2 separate regions of the Homo sapiens genome follow, and region 1 is linked to region 2. The links come from fine-mapping of genetic effects on gene expression. A gene starts in region 2. The other region holds a variant in brackets. All regions are shown on one strand. Distances are between the middles of the regions.

Region 1 (4,370 bases), 110 kb after region 2:
GTGCAGGCATGTGACCATCCACAGAGAAATGCATAATGCCCTTACGTACGTGTGCCTGTGCACACCTGTGAGTGCCCTTCCATGCACACCACACCCTCCTACATGGCCGCTATTCATGCACACCCAGTACGCGTGTACACGTACACACATTCATCCGCACACACGTCTGCTCGCACCCATCCCACCACCATGTGCACGGGCTTGAGCGTGTGTACCCAGACCCACACCTGGATGCACAGATGCTGAGGGCCGGGAGCCTCTGGACCAGCTCAGGGTGTCGGGCCCGGTTGGGGCAGACAACTGGCCGCAGTCCACACCCACATGGTGGCTGAGCCCTCGGACACTTGTGGGCCTGTGGGTGATCTTTCTAATTTTTAAATTTCTTTTTGAGATTGAGTCATGCTATGTTGCCCAGGCTGGCCTTAAATCCCTGGGCTCCAGCGATCCTCCTGCCTCGGCCCCCAGAGTAGCTGGAACTGCAGGTGTGAGCCACCGCACCTGGCTGGGGATGCTCATGGTAGTTTCTCCTCACAGGGGCACTGTGACAGGGCCCAGGAGTCACCAGGCCTGCCCCTGCAGCCACTCCCCACAGATGCAGCGGGGAGGGATGGTCTGGGGGCTTGTGTCTGGTAACTCCAGCACCTGATGGTCACCCAGCCCACACCAGTGCTGTGTGACCTGGCACCTGCTCCATCCCTCGGCCACAGAGTGGGGAGTGAGGTGAGCTTCCTGGCAGTTCGGGGAGTGAGGCAGCGCCAGGCTGGGTGAGCACTCCAGCGTGACCCCCCCACTGCCCAGGCCCCTGGAATAGGGGACAGCAGACAGTCCCAGGCTCCCCCAACCCCCAGGTGCCTTCTGTTGCCCACGTCTGCCCCTCTGCCAAACAGGCCCCTGGTCAGCCCAGCCAGGGTGGGTCAGGAATCCTGGGCCTGGGCTGAGCATTACTGGGGCAGCAAGGGACACCTGCAGGGTCTCTCACTGAATGAGAGGTTCTGCGAGGGCAGATGCCGGGCAGCCCCTGAGGATGCCCCCACCCCTCCCTCTGCCTCCTGCTCCCCATCCCCCACCCCTCCCTTCACCTCCCCCCCATCCCCTCCCTCCACCTCCCAGCCCCTCTTTCCACCGTCTGTCCCCCAGTGTCCTCCAAGACACTGACAGAAGCCCTCTTCTAGGCCTGCTGCTGCTCTCTGGTCCTGTTCCAGGTGGGGCAGGGGCTGCTGCATGAGGAGCTGCTGGGCCTGGGGCCAGAAATGGGGGCTCTTTTGTCACTGTCTAGAGTCTGAGTCTGCCACCAGGGACTGCCACCCGCTCCCCTGGTTTGAGGGAGTCGGGCAAAGGAGTGTGGAGCACGCCCTTCCCAGCCCCCACAGCTGGGTGATGGTGGGTGGGGGCCGCCCTGTGGTTCTCCCATGGAGCTTGGAGGTGGTAGCGAGACACAGCAGGCTGACGTGGACCCGCTGAGGGATGGGCACCCGGGATCCAGGCTCCTGCGGGACCGGCCTGCCCAGTGTGTCCGGGAGACTCGGCTGGCCCGCCCCCTGGCGGCCACGGGCGGCACCATCTGGAAGCGGACATTTATGTTCTTGGGACACTTGGCCTTTTCCCGGGTGATGAAGCCCACCTTGCACCCCATCTGGTGAATCCGGAGGCCACGAAGAT[G/T]CCTTTATGTTCTTAATTGTTGTATCAGGTCTTTGTTGAATCTTGGAGCCCTGCCTGGCTGGTGGCCCCCAACCCCACACAGCAAGGCCTTCTCGCCTTCCTCCTCGGTCCTTCCCTTTCAGGGTCTGAGGACCCCTTGGCCAAGACGGTGGAGACAGGCTCGGAGGAAAAGTAACCCTGAGCCTTGGGGGCTTCAGGAGATTACCTGCCCCTGCAGCATCCCAGTCCCTGTCCCAGTCCTGGCACCAGAGACCTTAGTGGGGCCCTGGACACACCCCAGGCCTGAACATCCCAGCCTCCTCTGCCTGGGGTCTAAGACCTTCACCAGCAAGGTGAACAGACGGCTGGAGGCCTCAGAGTGCAGAGCTCTGCCAGACCCACCTGCCACCTGTGACTCTAGAAAGCCCTCAATCCTGCCTTCCCCTGCAGGACTGGTCCCCAATTTCTGCATCTCCAGGGGCATCCCAGGACCATCTGGGGAAGCAGGGCATGCACACGCCCTGAGGCAGCCCCGCTTCGAGTCCCCTGTCTTGTGTGAGGACAGATGGCCCTTCTCAGGCCTTGAGTGCCAGGACCCTCTGCCCTCTCCAGCCTAGGTGCGCCTGCTCCAGGGCCAACACCCTCCAGGGTCCCTTGGCTGTCCGCCCCCACAGGGCTCAGCCACCCTGCAGATGTACCCTGGCCTCTTGGGAGGCACCGAGGGGGGTCGGTTGCCTCCGTCTCCAGCCTGTACGGAGTCCGGGCCCAGGACTCTGCGTCCTTCCAAGCTCTGATGCTGTGTTGAGCCCACTGCCTGCATGGTTCTGGCCGGCGGCTTCCTGGGCCGTCAGTAACTGTCCCTGCAGCCTGTACTACGTGTCTGGAGGACTGGCAGGTCCCTGGGGAGACCGGGGCCTGGGCTAGGCTGGTAAGAGGTGGCGCCGGGGGCAGGCCCCAAGGCTGCAGTCAGTGCCTGAGGCTGGCCCAGGCCCTTCAAAGGGGCCGTGGGCGGAGGCAAAGAGGAGGTTCTGTGTGGTTTTCCTGCCCGGAGAGGAACCTGGCTCAGGAAGCCATTGTCCCCACACAATGAGCACGGCTGGAACTGTGAAGTCAGGGGCGCTAGGCTGGGGGACCCAACCCTGACCTCAACCCGACTCTGTTCCATCACTGATGCCCCCAGGACTGACACCCCAGCTCACCCTGGACAGGGAGGAGCCACAGCTGGGGTCGGGGCACTCCTGAGCAGTCCGGGGGGCCTCGATTGGGGAAGTGCCCGCAGCTCAGGCCCGCTGACAGGCAGGGAGGGAGCGTTACATGTACCCACTTAACAGCAAAGCTGGGACCACAGAGGCCCAGGAGGCCCTAGCTGGACTGAGATTGGGATAGGAGGCCGGGCAGAAGGCCCAGTCACACCTGCCCAGGGGAGGCAGTGCCCACTCTGCCAGACGATGTGGGGACCCTCCTTTCCTTTGCGGCCGGGGGCCTCTGCACCAGCCCGACTGAGTCATTGCTGCCTCCCTGTGGACAATAACGTTGTCTGCCAGGTACCCGCCTTGGTGGAGCCTGGGAAAATGACCCCAGCCTAACCCGGCCGCCAGCACACCTCGGGGGCTGGCCCCCATGGCTCTGCTCCAGCCTTGACCACCCACCCATTGAGCTGAGTTGGCCGCTGTGGGGGTCCTGGGCGGCAGTGCAGGGCCGGACTGCAGGTGCCACAGAACCTGGCAGGTGGAGGCGGCACTGTGGGCTGAGGCTGAGCTAGGGTCAGCACCTGCAGGCCACAGCCTCGCCTGCCTGGGGTCCAGGAACACACATGCTGGGAGACATGTACCCAGCATGGAGACGATGTTCGAGCTTCTGTCTCTGTGCTCTGCCCCCGCGGCGCCCGGAGGATGGGGAGTGGCTGCCATCCCCACACAGCCCACCCTCCAGGCCTCACCCCTTCGGACTTCCCCTCCCACAAATCCCTGACCGGAGCATTCCCTCCAGCTGCACGTGGGGTTCTGGAAAATGCGTGTTTCTCATGCATTTGTTCATGGATTCACTCAGCAAGCGTGGAGAAAGCCTGACAGCCAAGTGCGTGCGCAGAGTCGGCGAGGATGAAGCAGGGAACCGGGAAGTGCTGCCCACAGGCCAGCGCCCCTGTCCTTGTAGGGGAGATGCGCTTCGAGCCACCCCCTCCCCAACAAGATCCATAGGCACAAGTTTGTGCAGGGAAATCAGGGCGTGAGGCGCAGCGGCCGGCCGGCAGAGGAGAAGTGGTCTTGCCAGCTGCTGGAGGGTGGGCTGTGGGGCTGTGAGCAGAGCGCATGCTTAGTTCCATTTTGGAGCACTCTGGGGAGGGGATGGAGAAGGGCCCAGAGGATGGGGGTGTCCCTGGGTGGGGCCGGGAGGTGGGTGGAGGAGGAGATGAGACTGGCTCCCTGGTGAAGGTCTCAGCAGGGATTTGTTATTAGGGGAGGGGGACAGCGGAAAGGAGTAGGTTCAGGTGGGGCCAAATTTAGGGGCCTGTAATGTGTGGAGGGCCTGGGGCTGGAAGAGCCTGGGATGATGTGATCCTGGGAGGTGAAAATCAGGGCTCAGCAGCCTGCTGGTGGCCTTGGAGGGCCCTGGGCACGCTCTTGGGCTGGTGTGTCCCGGCCTGGCTCCCGGGGAGGTTGCTATTCAGAGACAGTATTTCCCAGCCCACCAAGGGGAGGGGTGTGGTGGTCACATGGCCACTGGGGGACAGG
Region 2 (4,370 bases):
CCATAAATCCTGGTAGCTGGCGGTACATGCTTAAGACAGGCCCTGCCCATCCAGAAAGACACACGCAGAAGACTGGCACACGATGTCCACAGCAGCACGGGGCTTGTAATTAACCAAAAAACTGGAAACAAGCCAAGGTCCCTTGACAGAAGCAAAGCCGAGGTACTGTCACGCCAGTGAATAGTACGCAGCAGTGAACACGCCGAAAGGCATCAGCACACACGCAGCCCAGAAGCTTCATGGCTGGGCAAAAGTGAGGAGTACAGAAGAACTCAGGAGGAACAAAGCAAAACTAAGTAGCAGACTGTCCGAGGATGCACGGACAGGCGGCACAAGCACAAAGCAAAGCTAGGGGCAAGCCCGCCTATGAGGGGCCCTGTTCCAGGACAGGTAAGGGCAGGAGCTCATTATGAGGCTGAGCATGTCCTACGAACAAACTGCATCTGCCCACCTGGTCAGCTGCGCCACTCGCCCCTCCGCCCATTAACTCCTCCGCCCATTAACTCCACACCAACAGAACAAATCCTGTCCTCCTGCCTACCCTTCCTCCCAACCCTGTCCAGGCCAGAGCTCGGGACCCCCCCCAGCACTTAGTGCTACCCAGCCCAGGTGCCCCCATCTACCCCCGCCTGTCCTAACCAGGCTTCTCGAAACCCGCCCTACCCATACCCTCCCCACAGACACCAGAGTGGGCTTTCTAGACCCCTGGAGAATAGAGCACAGCTCCACAGGGGGGCTGATAAGGCCCCCGGCCCCTCCTGCCACACGCCCCCACCTCCCTTGGGTTAAAGACTTTGCTGCTCATTCGGAGGGCCCCAGGAAGCTGCTGCAGAGGTTCAGCAAGGGCAGGCTATGTGCTGCAGTGCTGGAGCAGGGGAGCGCCAACAGCCCGCATGAAGGTTCTGGGGCTGTGGGTGAGGCAGTGACTCAGAGGGGCAGACAGGAGAAGGGCTGTGGGGCTGTGGGACCTGACATTGGGGCAATCGCCAAGACCTGGAATGGAGAAGCAGCCAGGCCTGGGGAGATGCTCCTGGCTTTGGCTTTGAGGCCCCAGAGACTTCCCAGAAGAGAGGCAAGCAGGCACATCTGCAGTGCTCGGCCCCAGACCTTGGGCAAATGCTGACCCTTAGGTCTCATATGGACACTGGGTCCTTCGGGAGGCCCCGCCAGGTGCAAGAGTCGTGCCGGGTGGGCATCCTTCCTGTCCACTCAGCAAAACCAAAGCCCCGAGGTCCCAACCCTGCGCTCCAGGAGGGCAAGCCCCACTGTCCAGCGGCTCTGCAACTCCAACACCACGCTCAGAGATGCAGGCTGTGGGAGCCACAGGAAAGCACGGAGAGGCCCACCTGCAGCTGACTAGGGGTGGAACAACTCAATGCCACGTGGGGTCCCCTCCAGGCATACTGGCCACTTCCAGTGCCTGGAAGGTCCGCTCACCCTCCCATCTCCCCAGGGAGAACTCTCACTACCCCCAACCGCCTCCTCTTCTCGCCTGCTGTCTATTCTAGAACCAGAACTTTTCCGGAGAGCGTGTCTCTCTCCTCCTTAGCCTGGGAGCTTCCTGAGCAGGAACTACCAAGTCACGAAGAAATTACAAAAGTTTCAAACTGAGCAGGAGACTCAGGGAAGCTGCAAGTCCAAGGAAGGCTGGGCTATGGCCGGAGGGTAAACCCTGTCCAATCGTTACCGCTGGGCGACCGGGCGCCCCCCTACCAAGTGCAGAACAGCCAGTCTTCCGCAATGGCAAGATCAACTGGGAGGCGCAAATAGCAGTACTGGCTTGGCGACGCCTCTAAATGAGAGACAGCGCCAACCAGGTACCCGCGAGGACGACCCCGCCCCGCAGGACAGGGCATCTCCACCGCGCGCTGGACGGAGGATACAACCGAGTCCTGCGCGCCCCGTGCGCCGGGGGTCGCTCCCAGGCCGAGGTCTGACAGTGTCGCCGAACGCGAAAGGAAGCGTGTGGTACCCGAGAGAGGAAGCACCCTCGTCACCCCGGCCGGCACCGCATTGAGGCAGGTGTGCAGGTGCGGTTGCGGCGAGCCAGGTGAGCGCCGCCCGGGAGCCCCAAGGTCCCGCCGGGTCTGAGCAGCACCGGGTCCTCGGAAGCTGAGCGCGGCCCCCGGTGCTCGGGACCTGGGGGGCTGGGGCCGCGCTTGCCGGAGCTGCGGGGGGGCGGCGGCTGCACGCGTCGAACCGGCGGGCGGGGGCGCGGGGGGCGACCTGGGCTCCGCTGGGGGACCCGGGCCGGGGATGGGGCGCGCAGAGGCCGCGGCCAGGACACCCCCAGCAGGTGCCCGGCGGGAACAAAGCGCGGCGGGCGGCGCGTACCTGGGCACGCAGCTGGGGCTGGAGCCGTCCACCTCCCAGGTGGCGAACAGGTTCATGGGCACGGGCGTGTTGAGCGCGCCGGGCGCGCCGGGGAGGCCGAGGCGGCCTCGCTCGGCCATGGCGCCGGCCCCGCCGCTCCCTCGGCGGCCTGGGGCTGCGGCCGGGCCGCGGACGCGCGGCGGGCGGGCCGGGCGCGCGGAGGGCGGCGGCGCGGTCACATGGCTGCCGGGCGGCGGAGGGGACGGGCCGGGCCCCGGCGTCGGACAGGCCCGCGGGCGGCGACGAGCTGCGGCCGCTCCGCCCCGCCCCGCCCGGCGCCCCGCCCGCGCCCCGCGCGCCCCCGGCCGCCCCGCGCGCGCCCGGCGCCCTCCGACCCGCGCCGGCGCCGCCGATTGGCTGGGCGGGGCGCCAGCTCGCCGCCTCGGGTCCAATCGCCGCCGGCGCAGCGCGCGCCGGAAGTGAGGTGCGCGCGCGCTTCCTCCGGCGGCGCCTCACGGGGCGTCCCCGCCCGCCGGTGCGCGAGAGCGCGCACTCACGCGCCTGCGCACAGACCCCGCCCGGGGCGCCCCGCCCCGCCCCCCGGGAGCCGCGGGCAAGGGCCGGGAGAGTCGTGGGGGTCCACCGGGTCCCGGCCAGCTTCAGGCGCCGCCCCCTAAGGAAAGCTCATCGTCGCCCTGGCGATGCCCACCTCCCCACGCGCGGATTCCCCGGCCTCGACACTTTCCCGCCTCCACCCCGCCATGCCCCGAGTCTCCCCGCCCCCCTGCCCTCGCCGCCCCTTGTCTCCTGCCGACCCCCGCTGGGTTGGCCCGGCTGTGCGGGCCCCGCCCGTCCCCGAGCCCCTCCCTCGCGCCCCCCTGCGTGGGTTCCCCGGGACGCAGGGAGGTGGCAAGGAGGTGGCCGGGCCTGGCGGCGGTCGCGGGGACTCGAAGCCACTCGGGGCGCCAGGCTGCCGAGCTTAGCCTCCAGGGCTCCAGATGACCCCGGGCGCCCTCTTTGCGTCCCAGCATCCTTATTCAGCGCCGCTTTTCAGCGTTGTGCTCAGGACAATGGAGAACAAATGTCTGGGGCCAAGGCTGGCTCCTGGCCCTGGGGTTAACAGTGAACTTGGGGACCCAAGCAAAGAGGAGGCAATGGCTAGAGCCGCTGGGGCCCGACGTGTAGGCTCTGGGGCTCAGGGAGGGTGCTTCCCCCATCTGTTTGGCAGCGGCTGTGGTCCAGCACCAGATGCCAAGCCGAGATTTAGGAAACGGTTTTCTGGCCTCTCTTCTGTTTCCTTGTTTCACAGTTAGTTTACAGTTGCTTTTCTCTTCGCCCTGTGTCTTGTCTACAAGTAGTTTTACTGAAACAAATCCAGCCCGAGCAAATTGACCTGGAGCTGGTTTCTTTCCTGGCCCACGGGGCTTGCCACCCCAGTGCCCCGTCAGCTCCTTCTGCAAAGGCCCTCATGCCGCTGCTTCCTCCGTTGAGAGAGCTCAGCCTCCAGCTGTAACTCCTGTATCTAGAACTGCAAACAGCTGCGACTGCTTAAAGTCAGGGTCCCACTTCGGAGAGAACAAGGGACTCTGTGTTTCCCACGCGCCCCTGGCTCCTCTAAGGTGGTACACTGAGAGCCATGAGGGTCTGTCTGACCTTGGCCAGCTGCTCGGCGGGCAGAGGGCCGGTGGATCTCATACCTTTGAGACAGGGTAGGGGGAGAAGTGACTATGTCCAGAGAGGGGGTAGCCATACCCCAGGAGGACAGGCTGTCTGTGATGGGAGGGCAGGAGACAGGCACCCATTGACCCCAGAACTGAGCGTACGGCGCTGCTGGACCTGGCGAGCGTGCAGTTGCAGTCAGACGGATGGGCCGCCTGACACATGGTGCCTGTGTATGCCAGCGTCTAACCCAGGCAGGGACTACAACTGGGGGTCAAGTGAGGAGATGCGGGGTGACTAAGCCGTGCACAGCAGGGCTTGGCACCAGCTGCCACCATTGAGCGGTGCCCCTCCTCTGTGCCAGGCACCGTTGTGAGCCCTTAAGGGACGTGACAGTT

Evidence for each region. PIP is the estimated chance that this variant, and not a neighbour inherited with it, causes the effect.
Region 1: its variant is fine-mapped to the expression of PACS2 in whole blood (TOPMed, PIP 0.96).

Annotation. Positions count from the first base shown.
Region 1 is chr14:105,200,327-105,204,696 of GRCh38, reverse strand. No RefSeq gene overlaps it. Among named protein-coding and RNA genes, the nearest start is that of NUDT14, 21 kb to the right of the region's middle. The variant G/T (reference allele first, on the strand shown) is at 1,660.
Region 2 is chr14:105,313,002-105,317,371 of GRCh38, reverse strand. It overlaps PACS2 (phosphofurin acidic cluster sorting protein 2), which reads right to left and starts at 2,624. Exons shown (of 25, transcript NM_001100913.3): 1 at 2,335-2,624. The coding sequence starts at 2,453. It also overlaps a transcript of BRF1 not described here. RefSeq lists silencers at 2,003-2,082, 2,313-2,402, 2,543-3,072, 3,173-3,262 and an enhancer at 1,607-2,258.